3 linked regions of the Homo sapiens genome follow. The protein of the gene in region 1 interacts with the protein of each later gene in a biochemical or structural test. Each region holds a gene or a part of one and is shown on either strand. Other genes may lie near its edges.

Region 1 (7,835 bases):
ATATATAATGTACATATATATAATGTACATATATATGTACATATATGTACACATATATATATAATATATATATTTTTAGACATATTCTCGCCCTGTGGCCCAGGTTGGAGTGCAGTGGTGCCATCTTGGCTCACTGCAACCTGTACCTCCTGGGTTCAAGCAATTCTCCTGCCTCAACCTCCCAAGTAGCTGTGATTACAGGCATGCACCACCACAACTGGCTAATTTTTATATTTTTAGTAAGACAGGGTTTCACCATGTTGGTCAGGCTGGTCTCAAACTCCTGGCCTCAAGTGATCCACCCACCTTGGCCTCCTAAAGTGCTGGTATTAAGGCATGAGCCACCGTGCCTGGCCATATTTTTTAAACTTATATATATAAAAACTAGGATACTTATCTTTTCATTTATAATTTGTGATAGTACCTTTTATATATTCTTCTTATTAATTTTTAATTGTTACACGCTTTCCCAAAATCTTCCAGCCTATGGTCATCTTTTAACTTTGTTGATGGAGTCTTTTGTATAGTGTTAGATTTTAATGTCTGTAAATTTAATAATTTTTTCCTATATGAACTGTGATTTTATTTTATTTTTTTTTAGTTTAGAGACAGGGCCTTGCTCTGTCCCTCAAGCTGGAGTGCAGTGTCACAATTGTAGCTCAGTGTAACCTATAACTCCTGGAATCAAGTGATCCCCTTGCCTCAAGCTTCCTGAGAAGTTAGGACTACTGGCATGCACTACCATACCTGGCTAATTTTTAAATATTTTGTAGAGACAAGGTCTCTCTATGTTTCCCAGGATCGTCTTAACTCTTGGCCTCAAGTAAGCCTCCCACCTCGGCTTCCCAAAGTGCTTGGATTACAGGTGTGAGCCACCATACCTGGCCTTAACTGTAATTTTTGTTTTGTTTCTTTCCCTCTTAATGTCAGATAGTTTTCTATATTTTTTTCAAATTTTTTTTTTTTTTTGAGACAGTCTCACTTCTTCACTCAGGCTGGAGTGCAATGGTGCGATCTTGGCTCACTGCAATCTCTGCCTCCTGGGTTCAAGCAATTCTCCTGGCTCGGTCTCCCCAGTAGCTCGGATTACATGCACGTGCCACCACACCTGGCTAATTTTTGTATTTTTAGTGGAGACGGGGTTTCACCATGTTGGCCAGGCTGGTCTCGAACTCCTGAGCTCAAGTGATCATCCCACCTGGGCCTCCCAAAGTGCTGGGATTACAGTCATGAGCCACTGCACCTGGCCTGTTTTCATTTTTTATACAAAAATGTTCAATCCATGTGGAATTTATTTTTGAATATGGTGTGAGGTAGGCATAATCATTTGATGCTTTTTCCACAAACAGTGGTCTCAGATTCATTTATCAAATTGCCCTTTTTTTTTCCACTGATACATAATGCAACATCTCTCATATATCATTTCCATATATGTGAAGATGTGTTTCTGGGTTTTCTATACTCTCATTGGTCACTTTGTATAGCTGTGTCAATAACATGCCAATTAATTTCTATAGCTTCAAAAAAGTATAATGCTTCCTATACTGTATAAGTTGTGTCCTCCATAAGAACACCAGGGTAGAGACTGAAATCCAAATCCTGCTTGATACACCCAGATATAAGGCTGTGCCTACCTAAAAGGCACTTTTTTCTAATTCATAGAAAGACTGCCTGCTGGGTAAACTATGTGCTTTCAGGGCTCCCCGCTTTCATCCTAGGGGTACTTTTTCCTTCTTCAGAAATTGATAGAGAAAGGCTACTACATACTCTGAATGGATGTCAATTGGACATCCAAAAGGACAAGATGGCAATTCTCCCATCTTGTCCTTCTTCAAAAGTGTCTAGTCTATACTAGGCCTTTTGATCTTGCTGAAATCTATGTAAATCTTGTTGAGAATTTCACTAATCTTGCATTGTTTTTTATTACTTTGTAGAGAATTGACATATTTTTGAATTTAGTTTTCCCATTAATTAATGTGATATTAATATTTATTCATGCCTTTTTAATGCCTTTTAACAGAGTTCAATAATTTATTCATAAAGGTTTTGTAAATATTTGTTAATTTATTTTCAAGGTTTCCCTTTCATTGTCATCATACACACACACACACACAATTGCACTTTATGCTTGTGCATCACTCATGTTTAGGAACACATTTTTTTTATAATGATGACATTAAAAAATACTTATTGGTCATTCAAAATGAATTTCCTTTTCAAAACCTTAGTTTATTATTTTTTTTCCTGGTCTATCTGTGGCGTAATACCCTCCTCCCAGTGATTTGTAAGAACTTTTGAAAGTTGAAGGCAAATTGTATTTCATCATATGTATTTCAAATTTTTTCTTCCTGTTTGCCGTTTGACTTCTAGTTTCATTATTGGGTATTTTTTCTTTGACTGCAGAAAATTTAAATTTGATGGAGTCACATATACTACCCTTATGTGATTTCTTTTTTGTTTTTATGTTTCCTTTTTCAAGATTATATAACTATTAATTTATATTTTATTTTTGAAGTTATTTTTATTTAACTTTTTAATCTATTTGATGTTTGCTGTAATTAGTAATGTCAGTTTTATTTTTTTTCTTTTCAGGAAATTAGCCAAATGTTCTAGCACCATTTTATTCTCCACTGAACCCTGCTTCCATCATAAATTCATGCCTTAATCTTCATTTTCAGTCTTGTTAACTACTTGAAGAGTTGATAAATCTTGGAATTTCAGTCAATCAATTAAACATTTTTGAAAACTAAGAGAATACTTTACCTTAACACTGCAGTAGTTCATGGGAGAATGCTCCCAACAAATAATTCATATTTTCACACTGTCTACTCACAGTCTGGCCAATATAGAGTAGATAATAAATAGGCAATAGATGGATGAATGAATTGTGGAAATTAGGAGACATCTTTTAATTTAGATTTATTTTTCTTTGGAAGGGAGGTAGGTTTTAATTTCTTGCAAGGTTGTAATTCAGTAGAACAGGAAGGGAGAAACTAATGCAGAGGAACAGAAGGAATGCATGAGATGGAGAATGCCTAGAAATGTTTGAGACATTGATTAAGTCATCAGAAATGGAAACAAGTTTAGAAACAACTTAGAAAATAATACACTGTAGGTCTGATAAATATTGTAAGATTGGGAGTTTTTTGTTAAATTATGGAAAATTTTATATAGATACAATAGTAGAACAGACCACATGAACCCATCTCATATTATCTTCAACAATTATCAATTCAAAAGTTGTTATCGTTATCTCTATCTCCACACATTTCATCTTTTCCTCCACCACTGGATGACTTTGAAAGAAATCCTAACCATTTCAACTATAAATATTTTAGCATGTCTCTGTAAAAGTTAAAGACTCTATAACAACAAGACATAGACCCAATATCCAGGTTGAGTAGGAGTTTGCTATCTTACTAATCTAATGTATTAACAAAGTCTAGAGCATTCTTATTAAAGTGGTAGAGCATGAAGAACCTTCTACCTGGAGTTAGGAGATTTGCTGGGTTGAAGTCCTGGCTCTCAACTTCCCACCTGTGTGACTCCAGCAAAGCTCTTCACTTCTCAATTCCAAATCTCAATTTCCTCACTAGTGAAAGAAGGATACATAGTAGTAGTTGTATCCATTTCAGAATTGTCATCAGGATTGAAGTAACAGATGTGAAAACAAAACTAAAATTGTGAAGTAGTAACTTCCAGTCCAATCCTCTTCTTTGTAAGTGATCTTGAGGACAGACACATCACCTGAAGGATAGATCATCTTTGCCTAGCCTTGTCTACAATGTTCTTGCTAGGTTTCTTTTCCTAAAAACACATTACTTAGGTACTTAACAGAACAAACAAACAAACAATCAAAAGACAAAACCAAAAAACTTTGGGGTTATAGACACCCATACTCATAAGTATTTCTGAATACCAAGAGAAGAGTATTTAGGTTTGCTTCTCTCAACTTTTCACCTTTCATTTCATGTACCCTGTCCTTTGTCTCAGCTCTAATAGCTCTGAGAGCTGATTACTTTTCGGGTGTCCCAAGTATCAGGATCCTGCCTAGTGCAACTCAAATTTCCAAAAGTTAATTTAGTGGCCTTTTGGTGACCAGAGCTTCAGATAACTCACAGGGAAACAATGTTTATTTCCTCTCCCACTAACAGTCACAAAAAATCATAAAAAAGAGTAGCGGGGGCAGTTTTGATGGCTAACCCCTCTTTCCATCCTTTGGGGGAAAATTGCTCATCTCCCTATAGGTGGAACTCTAAAGACAATGTATTCCTAAAAGGGGCCATCTGGGCGGTGTCCTCTTTTCCCAGCGCCCTGATTTCTATTCTTAGATCTGGAGATAGGCGGCTTTCATTTTTCCTGCTCCCAGTTCCCAGACCTTCCGTGGGGCCGCAGGATCCCCGGCTGGCGGGTCGCGGAGGGTGGCCGGCCGGGCTGCGCACTGCGCGCCTCCGCTGCGGGGCTCCGGGCCTGTGGACTCAGCGGAGTCCGCTGAGTCAGTTTCTTCCCGCGCGACTCCCGGCCGCGCCGCCGCTGCGGTGGAATCTGGTCCCAGGAGGCGGCGTCCGCCCGGGGTCCGGTCTAGGCGTGCGTGGGGGCCACGGTCACGGTCATCCCAGCCAGGCCCGGCTCCAGCAGCCCCACGGCCGCCGCCAGAGTTCTGCGCGGCCCGTCGCCTCGGCGGAGCCTCTGGCAGGCCCCTGAGCTCGTTTTTGGGGCCTGAGTGGGGGAGGAGGAAGCCGAGCAGGAGGGCTCCGGAGAGGGAGGGCAACGCGGGGCGGGGAGCTGCCTCCTTCCTCATAAACAGGCGGGCGTGGGCGCCGATGGGGCCCGCGGGGAGCGCTGGCTGCGGGCGGTGAGCTGAGCTCGCCCCCGGGGAGCTGTGGCCGGCGCCCCTGCCGGTTCCCTGAGCAGCGGACGTTCATGCTGGGAGGGCGGCGGGTTGGAAGCAGGTGCCACCATGGCTAGTGGCAGCTGTCAGGGGTGCGAAGAGGACGAGGAAACTCTGAAGAAGTTGATAGTCAGGCTGAACAATGTCCAGGAAGGAAAACAGATAGAAACGCTGGTCCAAATCCTGGAGGATCTGCTGGTGTTCACGTACTCCGAGCGCGGTAATCACTTGAAAATAAACTGTGCTTTTATTTTTGCAAACTTTCTCCCCCTCCTTACATTTGCAAATTTTGTCCTCCTCCCCTTGACCCTGCTCAAACCCGGACTCTTAAGGAGCCGCAAACTCCCATATCCTTTCCTTAGGGCAGAAAGCAGCTGAGAATTTCAGGAAGGTCTTCACCTTTTTGACTTTTCTCCCCGTTTCAGACTAAAAAGGAGAGGGGGTGCTGTGGATTGTGACTTTGCTTCTTTTCCCCACCCACTTGTTTTCCAGCCTCCAAGTTATTTCAAGGCAAAAATATCCATGTGCCTCTGTTGATCGTCTTGGACTCCTATATGAGAGTCGCGAGTGTGCAGCAGGTAAAGGCATTGTTTTCACTTCAACTCATTCTCCCTTCTGTTTGGAAGGAGACGTTTTACTGGCAATGTTAATATAGCCGAGAGTTCTTGGTTATTCCCAAAATTTGGCTTGAGGAACCTCTGACTGTGATTTTAAGATGGGAATATTGTTAAATCATTACGCAATGTAAACGGGATGAAGAGCCCCAGTATGTGTTCCCTGAGTGTCTTTAAGAAGTAACTTTATAAAACCAACAGTATGGATGGTGGTAGAAGGAGGATAAAAATGGGTTCGGTTTTAGTCTCGTTATTGGCAAGATGAATTCATTAGTGTTTAGACTTGACTATTCCAAGTATCTTCCCAATACAGAGCATGTCCTAGATGAGAAGATTATGAATAGTTTGGAAAAGGGGAATAATTAATAGTGATAAAATGCAACTTTGTCACTAGCAAACTCTTGTAGAGTTCAGCACTTTTTAAAATTCAAAGATTTCTAGCCTTTAGTTGTAGTATACCTTGTAGTATCTAAAGAAAGTGATGTCTTATGAGACCCTCATAGTTTGCAACTGTTGTCATATAAAATGCATGTAGAAGTGAAACTTTTACAATCTGTACCATAGGAAACCCAGAAATTTGCTATGTATCTTGGATTTTTTTTTAAAGGGGGCCTTAAAAATGGTAATTAAGAATGATTTACAGTCAAAACAAAATTATAGGCCAAGGTGATAACTTCCTTCGGAGCACTTAGAGATTTGGGGAACTGAAATCAGTTTTGTCATCTGCATGTTAACTCATGCAGAGAAAGAGAATTGGACTTTGAACTCCTTGGAGGTGCAGTCAGAAAGCCAATGTTTCTTAATGGTTGAGAGGCTTGACAGACATGAGGCATCTCAATCTTTAAAGTGGTGTGGGTCTATCTTTATCTTGATGTTTATCTCTGTATCTAGCTGTATCTAGTCTGGGTGAACCATCTAGCTTCTTTGATATGAGGACATTTACATCTGGAAGAAATATTTTAATTTGTTTTCAACTGTGAAATATTTTCCATCTGACTATTATAGATTTTCACGCTGCTATCAAACCAAACCAAGAAAAGATGGAGGCATAATAAAGATGCTGTTCTTTTAAGACTCAAAGTCGGAATTTTGCCTGTGGAATATGAGTCACTTTTTGGGCACTGGCCTATTGTGCTTCCTGCTCTGCACCCACGTCATCCCTTCTTACTTGTCTCTGCTTTGGTGTTCAGAAGTGCCTGATTCTGGCCACCTTCATTCCCTAGACTCTGTACTTGATAGAGTCACTCCTGCTTGATACTGCTCAGGACAGTCAGATCCTGGGTAGGCGTTTTGGTCTGCAGGGTCTAGATAAGGCAGTGCTATACTTGACAACCCAGGGGAGCCTGGAACATACTTCCTAATTCTTAATTTTAGAAATTGCCCAAGCCTGAGCATACTTGTCCGGAGTAGTTATGAGTGTCACTTAGTATTTCTGCCTAGAGAGTACCAGAGGCAAAGTATGCTGGAAAATAAGGAAGAGTTTTTTTAAAAGTAATTAATTACTTTTTTGGATATATCATAGTTGTATATATTTTGGGGATACATATGCTATTTGATACATGTATACAATGTGTAATGTTCAAATCAGGGTAACTGGAATATCCGTCACCTCGAACATTTTTCTTTGTGTTGGCAACGTTGCAATTTCTTTCTTCTAGCTATTTTAAAATATGCAATGAATTATTAACCATAATTTCCCTGCTATACTATTAAATATTAACTTAATTGCTTGTATCTAATTATATTTTTGTACACATTAACCACCTTCTCTTTATCCCTCCCCATCCTTTCATTTCCAGTCTCTGGTAACCACCATTCTACTCTCTTCCTCCATGAGATCCACCTTTTCCGCTCCTACATATGAGTGAGATTATGCAATATTTTATTTCTGTACCTGGCTTATTTAATTTAACCTAATGACCTCCAGTCCCACCCATGCTGTTGCAAATGACAGGATTTCATTTTTTATGACTGAATAATATTCCATTGTGTATGTATACCACATTTTCTTTTATTTTTAGTTAAGTAATTAATTTAGAGACAGGGTCTCACTCTGTTGCCCAGACTGGAGAGCAGTGGTGTGATCAAAGCTCACTGCAGGCCTGCAATCCTGGGCTGAAGTAGTCCTCCTGCCTCAGCCTCCCAGGTAGCTAGGACTATAAGCATGTGCCACCATGCTCAGCTAATTTTTTTTTCTTTTTTTACTTTTTGTAGAGATGGAGTCTTGCTATGTTGCCCAGGTTAGTTTCAAACTCCTGACCTCAAGTAATCCTCCTGCCTCGGCCTCCATATTTTCTTTGTTAATCTGTTGATAGACATATAAGGTGATT
Region 2 (4,483 bases), on another chromosome or scaffold:
AGGCTGCAGTGAGCCAAGATTGCAGCACTGCACTCCAACCTGGGTGGCAAAGTAAGATCCTGTCTCAAAAGAAAAAGAAAAAACAAAAGAGACTTTCGTCTATCTTTTTGAAGAAAAATTCTTGTAACCAAAGGTAACTATAAGTAAAACATTGCTTCACGCTCTTTCATGCTTTCAGAGAAAAAGGTGGCAAGGGGAACACGTCCAAGACTCCTGGGTTCACATCTGCAGGGTGTGTACACTAGCCACACAGCAGAACACAGACAGACTTGGAAGCTTGTCTTCAGAGACACTAAATATTTTTTTCCTGGTGAGAGAATCAGTGCCCTAACAACTACCTCTGTTCCACTTTCTTCAGTAGCCATCGACCCTCTGATGAGGATGCCCCCTCCAACAGGCACCGCCAGGCAGCCCTGCCTGGAGACCCAGAGGCACCGAGTCACATTTGCTCTGCACACCTGGCTCTCGCTTGATGTGGGCCTGTGTGCTACAGCCCGGAACACAAAAGAAGACACCCATGCAAATACCATTAAAAGTTTATTGTTTTATTTCAATATTCAGGAACAGTGTACACTTTCCGTTCAGCCATCGTCACAGCACGTGCTGTGTGGGTGCGGCCACGTATGGATCGCAGAGCCGACCTCAGCTCAGCGACGCAGAGTGCTTCTGCTGAAAAATTTGGAGGTTTGTGTCTGGAGTTTTGTTCTTTGTAACTCTCTCATCATCGAGGCTATATATTAATAGACATGGTATTAAGCCCACACGAAACATTCAGAATTAGAATTGGATTAAGAAGACGCGTTTTGGCATCACGCTGACTACTCCTCATCTCCGTCCTCGGGGAGGGTGATGCCAGCGTGGGACTCTTTGGAAGGCCTATCAATCACAGGTGCGCTAAAATCAAAAGGTGGGTCAGTAGGTTAGGGAGGGAGGCGCGAAAGGAGATGCCAGCGGGTGTTAAGAAGGATATGGTCAGAAGAGCTCTTTGTCTCCATCCACGGGGCCGTCTGCTCAGCCCGTGTGTCTCGGTGAGTAATTCGGGAGCAGGTGCACGCCTGTGCCTACTCGCTACCACGCGTCTTCTGGGAGGAAGTGAATGAGCCGGTTATCTTCTCAGGGAGGGTTAGTGCTGGCCACTGTGCACTGCCGCTGCCAGCACGCCCGGTCACAGCCAGTGTCTATGGGCGACTGGCGCGGCTGCGAGGCTGTCTAGAGGACTCCTACCCTTCTGCTCTGAGTGCGCAAGTCTTCCTGGACTCTCCGGCTGTGGGCTGTGGTTTGGAAACGAGGTTGTTCATAGAGGCTGCTCTGGGGCCACCATGCAGGGCAACGGTGACGTCCAGAGGCCACCTGCTTGACATCTCCATCACCAAATCTCCAGGAAGACCCTGTTTCCTATGTGAGGCCATTGCCCAGCCCACGTTTGCCTCCTTTTCCTCCCTCTGCCACACGCGAATTCAGCTAATTGGGGTGTGTGGGCAGCCACGGCCTGGGGAGGTGGCCCCCTCTCTGTGCTGCCCCACGTTGGACTCTAACAGCTGCCCAGCCCGCATGTCACATACCAAAAGCTCCCACATGTAGTAAGCCACTCCTTGACTGTCTAATCCTGTTAGGAAAAATGAAGTCTACTTTAGGAGGTGAGAGAAGGACAGGAAAAAAAAACAAAGGAAGCTTGGATGTCAACAGTCCTCTCTGCCGCCCACGTCCTCTCTGTCTCTGCAGCTGTGTGCCTCCATGGCAGTGACCAGCAAAAGCGCAAGGGTGCCGCAGCCACGGCGAAAAGAAAGTCCAAGGGTGGAGGGGTGAACGTGGAGGGACGTCTGTGCACCTGGCCCCCTGAAGACCCACGTGCGTCTGGGGGCACATTGCGGGGGAAGGAACGTGATCTTCACACAGAAAGGGACAGTTTTAACCGTTTTCTGTTTTCATGTTCTCATTTAACTGTTGGCCGGAAATTGCCGGTAGGCTGCCGTGGCCTGACCCTACTACGTGCACAACTCCGCAGGCATTAGGGGAGGGGTCATCTGCTCTAATTAGGTAACAGGGGCAAGTGGGATTAAAGTTTTAAGGCAGTTATATTAAGAAGCTGAGGACAGGATTCCGGAACCAGGTGGGTTTTCAGCGTCTAGCCATGGGTGATCCAGAGCGACTATCTCTTCCTCCCTGAAAAGGAAGAGAGAGGAGTTAGGACGAGAGTGCCGCAGGGTCCTCCCACACCAGCATCCCCTCTTCTGTGGTCCCGGGTGGATGCTGAGCCATTGGGTGTCTCTCTCATCTGCTAATAGAAATGGCACCCCGGAGAGCTGGTCTTTTCATTCCATTTCTCCCGACCTCCCTCAGCAAATGCTAATTGAATTTCCAGTTCTGTGAGAGAGAACTGGAATCGGATTCCCAGGCCCCAGGGAGTGGTGCCTGGCATAACCACTGCTCTGCAAAACAACGCTGCACTTCTGTGGGTGAAAGTGCAGCCGCTCCATTGCTTTGCTTTGAATGAGCACTTTTTCTCGTCAGCTAGAGGTGCCAGGGCAGCCGAGGGGAACTGCCAGCGACAACAGGAGCAACTTCTTTTTCGGCGGGACCCTAGCACACCCCTTGCTACACGCGCCAGCAAAGAGCAAAGCCACGTGTCCATCCCTGGGGACGTCCCTCCTATGTGCCATCTCATCTGCCACACCAGACAAATCAAATGCACAGAGAGCTTTGTCTGCAAACTTTGACTTGAAGGGGTCTTAAAACCATGCATTTACACGTTTGGGGGACAAATAATTTCGATGTTTAAAAGAGAGTTGGCAGCTAATTGAGATGGTGCACAGGTGTGCTGTGGCCCACGGTGTGGAGGTAGCCAGGCGTGGCCATCCCTCTAGAAAGAGGAATGCGTTGGTCACTCAGAATGTCACTTAGATCGACGAAGCAGAACTGCACTTTTTTTGCATTCAAATTTTTATTCAAAGTTTAGTCTCTCTCCTTGGGTTTCCCCTCTTTTATGAAATGATCAATTTTGGCGAAGAGCCCCCAGAAAGCAAGATAGAAAAGAAATATGCTCTTTACCGTGGCCGATCAGCAACGAACCAACACTGTCCTCATCTAATTCTACGTCTTCCACACTGCCCAGTAACACAAATAACCAGAGCGCAGACGCCAAGAATCCTTCCAAGTAACGCAGCTAACAGACCAAGGTGACAGTTCTGACTTCTTGGGGGGTTTTCCAAGTACATACGTAGCATTATAAACAAGCCTCTATGTTGTGCTTACACAACTCACTCAAGGGATTTTTGTTTTCACAAGTGAAAACGTTTATGAAATGCTAGCCTGCGAAGCCGCTTCAGGAACCATCTAGTGAGATTTCCCTCCCAAGACAGGCAGCTTTCTCACATACCGTGGAGGCCTCCTGCCGGCCTGGGGACTGACAGGTGCAGGGCCCTGCCCCTCGAGGGCCAGCCTCTCCCTCGGGAGCGTGGGTTTTTCCTGTTTGATCCTGGCTTAACTTGAACATCTCTGGCATTGGAGCTGCCCTCTGGAGTAGCCCAGAAGTTGGCACTCACCTCACCTTTTGCTGCATTTCCAAGAGATCAGCCTTTGGACTTCCTGGAAAGTGGTAGAACCACTGTCCTATGAAACAAAGTGCTTCTGTGCTGAAATGGAGTAAGTTCCCTGCAGCCTCTGGCAAGGTAACCTACCGAGGTACAATCTTAACTTTCTTGATGCCCCCTTTTGACATTGAAAATGGTGGGTGTATTGGTTTTACTTTTTATCATTGAAACTACAATTTGTTGAGCACTGACCATGCAGGAAACCCGTTTTTCCCCGTTTTCTCTTTTGTGCTCACAGCACCTCCTGGAGTAGGTGTTCCTATCATCCTCTCTTTATAGCTCAGGAGCCAAAGCTCAGCCAGCCCGAAGGAGCCAGGATTAGAGCCTGCATGGATGCAACAGTCACGCTTCTCTCTATTACGTGTCTTGCAACTTGGAGTCACATGATCTCAGCATCTGATCCACCCTGGGCTCAGGTCAGTATAAGGCTGAACTCACAAGGTGAGGGTTAGACTGACCTCCTCTCTCAGGACAGGAAAAGAACAGAGCCTACTGCAAAAGGCAGATACTCTTGCCTCCACTTTGACATCTCACAACTCCACAGCAACACTACAGGTGGGAAAACATTCACATGTATGTTCGTGGAAACTAATGCACATGGAAACAGGATGCTCCTATGATGTTCTGATGTAGTTTCCGAGTGATGGGGGGACATGCATAGTTTTTTCTACCCAGTTCCTACCGACAGCGCTAGACTTCCAGATTTGAGTGTTTTCCTCTCACTACTGATTTCCAACAGCACCAAAAAGAACAGGAAGGAAAGATGGTAAAATGATGTTAAATGCTATGAAGTCCCTGTCCTCTCCATCTGCCTGCCTCTAGACCCCCTCATTTCTGGGGGAGCTGATTTATTAATCTATTGGAAGTGCTCCAAGTCAACTAATTCAGCCATA
Region 3 (7,032 bases), on another chromosome or scaffold:
CTGGTCTGTAAAATCTGCACTGACTAACCGCTTCCCTCTCTAATAGCTGCTACCCAGAATGATACTGCTGTCTAAAGCAAAGGGCCCAAAAGCCTATGTGTTCTATGGACACTTCCTCCCTTTTGTCTTAGAGACAGTAAAAAGCCTGTCAAGGAAGAGATGATCCCCCTGCCAGCTAGCCCTACCTCCTCACATATGCCAGCAGCTGATCATACTCAGGTGAGGCATTTCTCTCCTTTTTACAGAAAAGGATTGTCTGAAATCCCAATACTAGGAACAGAAATGGGAGAGAAAGAGAGATGGAATGCACAAATAAATGCCAGAGATAAATTTTCTGAGAGATAACCAGATTTGAGAAACAAGTTAGGCATTGTACAGATGAGAAACTGAGGCCCAAATAAGGGAAACGTTTGTATCACAGCGAATTAGTGATAGAGCCAACCCTACAGCCCAAGATTCATGACTTTCTATCCAGGCCCTTTTGACTTCACTAGGCTGTCCCTTTAAAAGTTCTCCAATATAACCTCCATGTGAAGAGAGAATGCAAAGCACAATTATAATTAGAATGCATTTAGTCATTCCAGACTAGCACCATAATCACTTGTGAGCTATGTGAATGTAAGCACATCACTTTAATTGTAGTAAACTTGTATTTAAATATTCCTCAGACTAATTTGTATTTTCACCAATTAAGTATCAATGATTACACTTTGCCATTCAAAGTAAAACAAACACAAAACAAACTCCAGAGAAGTAAGTTCCACCTAAATCTGAAGTTAGATATTCTGAGGATCATTAAGCCCATCTCCCAATTCTCCCAATTCTAGATTATTTTTCTTTACTTTTTTTTTTTTTTTTTAGAGACAGAGTCTTGCTCTGTCACCTAGGCTGGAGTACAGTGGCGTGATCATAGCTCACTGTAACCTTGAACTCCTGGGCTTGAGCAACCCTCCTGGCACAATCTCCTGAGTAGCTGGGACTATAGGTGTGCACCACCATGCCATGCTAATTTTTAAATTTTTTGTAGAGACAGGGTCTCGCTGTGTTACCCAGGCTGGTCTCGAGCCCCTGGGCTCAAGCAATCCTCCCATCTCAGTGTTAGGATTACAGACATGAGCCACCACATCACGTCAACTCCAGCTCAATTAATAATACAAGAAGCACAATGGTATTGGAAAGGGAGCTATCATTTATTACTTCTCTACCATATGCTGGATGCTTTCTTCCAGCTAACACTTTCTTTCCTATTTGTGTTTTCTTATCTTTCTCACCTATTTCGAATTTATCTTTTTGGATTGGACATCCTTATATGCCACTATAATCAGATTTTTGAGTAACAGGTAAGATACAAAACATAACACACTCACAAAAATCCTGTGAGGTAAGTATTAGATATTTCTCGGGGGGAGGGGATGAAGATACCAACCCAGAGAGTTCAATAATTTTCCCAGGGTCTAACTAGGAAAATGAGGATTTTGTGTCCTCATCTGTAAAACATGCCCATACTAATTCATGCACTCACAGAGCTTTGTGATAGTCAAATGCTTATCATAATACTTAGCATACACTGAGTCCTGGATAAATGTTAACTCTCATCTGTATTAGCCACAGACAATAATTTTCCCACTCTATGTAATAAGAACTCAGAAGGTGTACCCAAGCTGTCCTCAAATTTCTAGCCCTCTCCTACCCCTGTCTCCATTCTACTCTTGTCTTTTCTCTCACCAGTCAGAAGTATTCACAGGAATAGAATTAGCTTATTTGAACACTACCTCCTTCTTTTTTTCTTCCTCTCTCCAACCCTGGGGAAGTTCTCATATGGTAGAAGGACACAGAGAGCAAGGAAGAAAGGGAAGCAAGAGGGCCTGGAGAATCCATCAGGGTGATATGCAGCCTAACATCCTGGACAATAACTCAGACCTCCACTTCATCGGAGTCTGGTGGAGAAATAGGATAATGGCCTGTCTGGTGAGGTCCCAGCCTCTGGAAATGGGAGCCTCATTTTTGCTCCTAGAAGTCTGGCCACAGACGGCACATTCCCTTGAATGCTAAAAATGTCTGTAGCTGCCATCTGTTTATTATAGTATACAGTACATCCTTTCTGACAATAATGATTCACAATGAAGGGACACCCCTTGGGTTGGAGATGGGAATGACCTCTTCACTATGGCGAGTAAGCAATTATCTTCATGGCATGCCTGTAGGAGATGAAGCAGCCTCCTACTGCATCCATCAACTCCCATGTTGTCCTAAGTCCCAACATTCTTTTGAGAGAAATGTGCATAGAGCTTACTACCTCAGGGAGAGTAAGTTAGTTTCCTTCTACTAGGAAGCAAAAACATGGGACAGAGGCAGTGTGGTGCAGTGGCAACAATGTGGAGTGCAAATCCCAGCCAAATATCATTTGGGTGCAATTAAGTTATTTAACTTCTGAGCCTCATCATTAAAATGGAGAAGACATCACTTACATGTTTCAGAGTTAAAAGGAAGGCTCCATATGCTAAGATTTTTAAAGCATCTAGCATAGAATATACACCATTTTCTTTTCTCCCTTATTCAGGACCAAAGATAAAATTAATCAGGACCATAGGGTGCAGGCTGCCAAAGTTTAACTTTGCCTCCTTTCATATTAAGTCTGGAATCAGCCTTCATTTTGATCTATCTTGGAGTGAACAGGAAGAGAGATTCTTTGACAAGAGGCAAAAGTCATGGATTGTTGGCATTGTGGTGGAAGCTATTCAGAGAAGGAGAGGAGGCTAAGGAGTCTCCGCCTTACCTGGTCAAATAGCTGCTTCCCGGTGGTGTTGGGCTGGATGGCAAACTCCAGCTCTGCATCCATGGTGGTCACACGCACACTGATCTAGGATGAGATCAAAGGAAGCAGGTTAGTCATCTGGCTCTGTGTTCAACAGAGCCTGAGACAAGTGTCTCTGCTCAACCACAGAGGAAGGAGTTAGGATGCTAAGAGCCTGGGCAACTTAGATACTGATGGGGATGAAGGGAGAATATTGACCCAAACACAACCCCTGCTCCCAAGCAGCTTATTGAAGACAAACAACACAGCCACAGAGCAATACTTACCAAAGAACAGACAAGCATGAAGGCCGGGTGCAATGCCTCATGCCTGTAATCCCAGCACTTTGGGAGGCCGAGGTGGGTGGATTGCTTGAGGCCAGGAGTTCGAGACCAGCCTGGGTAACATGGCAAAACCCCATCTCTACTAAAAATACAAAAATTATCCGGGCATGGTGGTGCACACCTGTAGTTCAAGCTACTTGGGAGGCTGGGGTATGAGAATCACTGGAACCCAGAAGGTAGAGGTTGCAGTGAGCCGAGATCACACCACTGCACTCCAACCTGGGCAACAGAGCGAGACTTTGTCTCAAAAAAATTTTTAAAAAAGAATGCAGATCAGCCTACAACTAAGAGCAGGCAAATGATAACTGTACTTCTTCCAGGAAGGCCTTTCCATCTATACTAGACAGCTTCATCTCACAGGGTTCTCTTCTCACCTCTGATCTACCTGGATTATCTATAGCACTGGTAAACAATTGCAGAGGCAAATTAATATCAGGACAAAGAGCACTGGGTTCCACATGATAATCTAAAGGGCAGAAAAAGCTTTCAATAAAATCTAACACCCCTTCATGTTAAAAGTTCTCAATAAACTAGGTATTGAAGGAGCATACCTCAAAATAATAAGAGCCATCTGATAAAGCCACAACCAACATCATACTGAATGCGCCAAAGCTGGAAGCATTCCCTTTTAAAACCGACACAAGACAAGAATGCCCTCTCTCACCACTCATATTCAACATAGTATTAGAAGTCCTGGCCAGAGCAATCAGACCAGAGAAAGAAATAGAGGGCAACCAAGCAAGAGGAGAGGAAGTCAAACTATCCTTGTTTGCAGATGACATGATCCTATATCTAGAAAATCCAATAGTCTCGGCCCAAAAGCTCCTTAATCTGATAAATAACTTCAGCAAAGTCTCAGTGTACAAAAATCAACATACAAAAGTCACTAGCATTCGTATACACCAACAACAGTCAAGCCAAGAGCCAAATCAGGAAGGCAATCCCATTCAGAACTGCCACAAAAGAATAAATATCTAGGAATACTGTTAACTAGGGAAGCGAAAGATCTCTACAAGAAGAACTACAAATCACTGCTCAAAGAAATCAGATATGACACAAACAAATGGAGAAACAGTCCATGCTCATGAATAGGAAGAATCAATATTGTTAAAATGGTGATACTGCCCAAAGCAATTCATAGAATAGACTCAATGCTATTCCTATCAAACTACCAATGACATTCTTCACAGAACTAGGAAAAACTATTTTAAAATTCATATGGAAACAAAAAAACAGCCTGAATAACCATGGCAATCCTAAGCAAAAAGAACAAAGCTGGAGGCATCATGCTACCCAACTTCAAATGATACTAGAGGGCTCCAGTAACCAAAACAGCATTGTACTGGTACAAAAACAGACACAGAGACCAATGGAGCAGAATAGAGAGCCCAGAAATAAGGCCACACACCTACAACCATCTGATCTTTGACAAAGTCGACAAAAACAAGCAATGGAAAAAGGACTCCCAATTCAATAAACAGTGCTGGGATAACTGGTTAGCCATATGTAGAAGATTGAAACTGGACCCCATCCTTATCTCACATATAAAAATCAACTCTATATGTATTAAAGACTTAAATGTAAAAGTAATGTAAAACTCAAAATTATAAAAACCCTCAAAGAAAACCTACGTAATACCATTCTGAACATAGGAATGGACAAAGATTTCATAACAAAGACGCCAAAAGCAATTGCAACAAAAGCAAAAATTGACAAATGAGATCTAACTAAACTAAAGAGCTTCTGCACAGCAAAAGAAACTATCGAGTTAACAGGCAACCTACGGAACCAGAGAAAATATTTGCAAACTATGCAACTTACAAAGGTCTAATATCCAGCATCTATAAGGAACTTTAACAAATTTACAAGAAAAAAAACAACCCCATTAAAATGTGAGCAAAGGATATGAAGAGACACTTTTCAAAAGAAGACATACATGTGGCCAAGAAGCATATATAAAAAATTTACATCATTAGAGAAATGCAAATCAAAACCACAATGAGATACCATCTCACACAAGTCAGAATAGCTATTATTAAAAAATCAAAAAAAAATAATAACAGATGCTAGTGAGATTGCAAAGAAAAGGGAACCTTTATACACTGTTGGTGGGAGTGTAAATTAGTTCAACCATGGTAGAAAACAGTGTGGCAATTTCTCAAAGACCTGAAAACAAAACTACCATTCAACCCAGCAATATCATTATGGGGTATATATCCAAAGGAATATAAATCATTCTATCATAAAAATACATAAACGCGCATGTGCATTGAAGCACTATTCACAATAGCAATGACATGGAATCAACCTAAATGCCAGTCAATGGTAGACTGGATAAAGAAAATGTATGTTAGTATGCAGCCATAAAAAACAACAAGATCATGTCCTTTGCAGGAACATGAATGGAGTGGAGGTCATTATCCTTAGCAAACTAATGCAGGAACAGAAAATCAAATGCCAGACTGGGCATGGTAGCTCACACCTGTAATCCCAGCACTTTGGGAGGCCAAGATGGACGCATCCCTTGAGGCCAGGAGTTCAAGACCAGCCTGGACAATATAGCGAAACCCCATCTCTACTAAAAACACAAAAATTAGCCAGGCAAGGTGGTGCACACCTGTAATCCCAGCTACTTTGGTGGCTGAGGCACGAGAATCGCTTTAACCCGGGAGGCAGAGGTTGTAGAATACCACATGTTCTCACTTATAAGTGGGAATTAAATGATGAGAACACACAGACACATAGAAGGTGGAGGGTGGGAGGAGGGAGATGATCAGGAAAAAATATTTTAATAACTAATGGGTACTAGGCTTAATACCTGGGTGATAAAATGATCTGTACAATGAACCCCCATGACATGAGTTTACCTTATGACAAACCTGCACATGTACCCCTGAACTTAAAATAAAAATTAAAAACAAAGAAGAACACTGGATTCCAAGCCTAGCATGTAGCTGGTCAAATCTACAACCTTGGATAACTCCTGTCCTTTTCCTGGGCCTTAGTTTCCCTTACCTGTGCAAAGGCAGGAATGGGATGGAGGGCAGCCAATTAAACTAGATAAATGGTCCAAAGACCATTTCAGTGCTGATGTCGGTGGTTCTATATACTGCCTTGCATTGCTAATGCTTCCTATATTTATGTCTCATTGGCTTCCTTAGGCTCAAGAGGGGAAGGGGGCCTCAGTAGAGGTGGGTATGGGTGGCATAGAGGGGCTACCAAAGCCAACTCAGTGGGAGGACAAAGGTGCAGAAACAGGCCCAGACCAAAATAAGAGACAGCCACACACATGATTTCACGGGCACTAGAAAAAATACCACCTTTACAAATAGATCCTCGAAGCTAGGTCAATGATAGCTGAAATTTCATAATTAGAGATTTAGTCCTTTGGCTGAAAACTCAGTAGTAATGGTAGCAGTAGTAATAGTAACAGGCAGCAGCTTTCCTGTATCAAGACTTGCTACTCACCAGGCACTTCATATGTACTACCTCATTTAATATCAATAATCACCCTGTGAAGTAGAGTATTATCTCCACATTGGAGATAAAGAAATAGGTATTTGTCTAAAGTCACATTGCTATTAAGCAGGGGAGACAGGGTTTGAATCCAGGTCTAAATCCAAACCTCACAATGTAAACCAATATGCTAAATTCCTCTTACAGAGTACAAAAGTCTCCCATTAAAAGAAAAAAAAGATTGATTTTTAGTTGTTAGATATTTTGCTTAAATAATGTATATAGTACAGCCACAAAATGGCTTCTTATATGGTCATACAAAATCTTTATGAAGACTATTTCATGCTCACGGAAGACACTTTAGTAATATTGAGGAAATGTAAACAGTATTTCATAGAGTCCGTGAGCTCAACTTTGTAAAATGTATACATAGAAGGA

The links. Proteins that work in one complex are often made in the same cells at the same time.
Region 2: of the proteins of LRRK2 (region 1) and MBP, one has a biochemical effect on the other in vitro, tested with the Homo sapiens proteins (6 studies listed by BioGRID).
Region 3: of the proteins of LRRK2 (region 1) and MSN, one has a biochemical effect on the other in vitro, tested with the Homo sapiens proteins (9 studies listed by IntAct).

What each region holds. Positions count from the first base shown.
Region 1 is NC_000012.12:40,220,172-40,228,006, forward strand, and holds the start of LRRK2 (leucine-rich repeat serine/threonine-protein kinase 2), read left to right. Parts: upstream 1-4,825; 5' UTR 4,826-4,960; coding exon 4,961-5,111; intron 5,112-5,383; coding exon 5,384-5,469; intron 5,470-7,835. UniProt on the Homo sapiens protein: Serine/threonine-protein kinase which phosphorylates a broad range of proteins involved in multiple processes such as neuronal plasticity, innate immunity, autophagy, and vesicle trafficking.
Region 2 is NC_000018.10:76,978,309-76,982,791, forward strand, and holds the end of MBP (Golli-MBP), read right to left. Parts: intron 4,007-4,483; exon of another isoform or gene 3,870-4,006; intron 3,682-3,869; exon of another isoform or gene 2,164-3,681; coding exon 2,119-2,163; 3' UTR 525-2,118; downstream 1-524. UniProt on the Homo sapiens protein: The classic group of MBP isoforms (isoform 4-isoform 14) are with PLP the most abundant protein components of the myelin membrane in the CNS. They have a role in both its formation and stabilization.
Region 3 is NC_000023.11:65,712,646-65,719,677, reverse strand, and holds part of MSN (moesin), read right to left. Parts: intron 2,861-7,032; coding exon 2,777-2,860; intron 1-2,776. UniProt on the Homo sapiens protein: Ezrin-radixin-moesin (ERM) family protein that connects the actin cytoskeleton to the plasma membrane and thereby regulates the structure and function of specific domains of the cell cortex.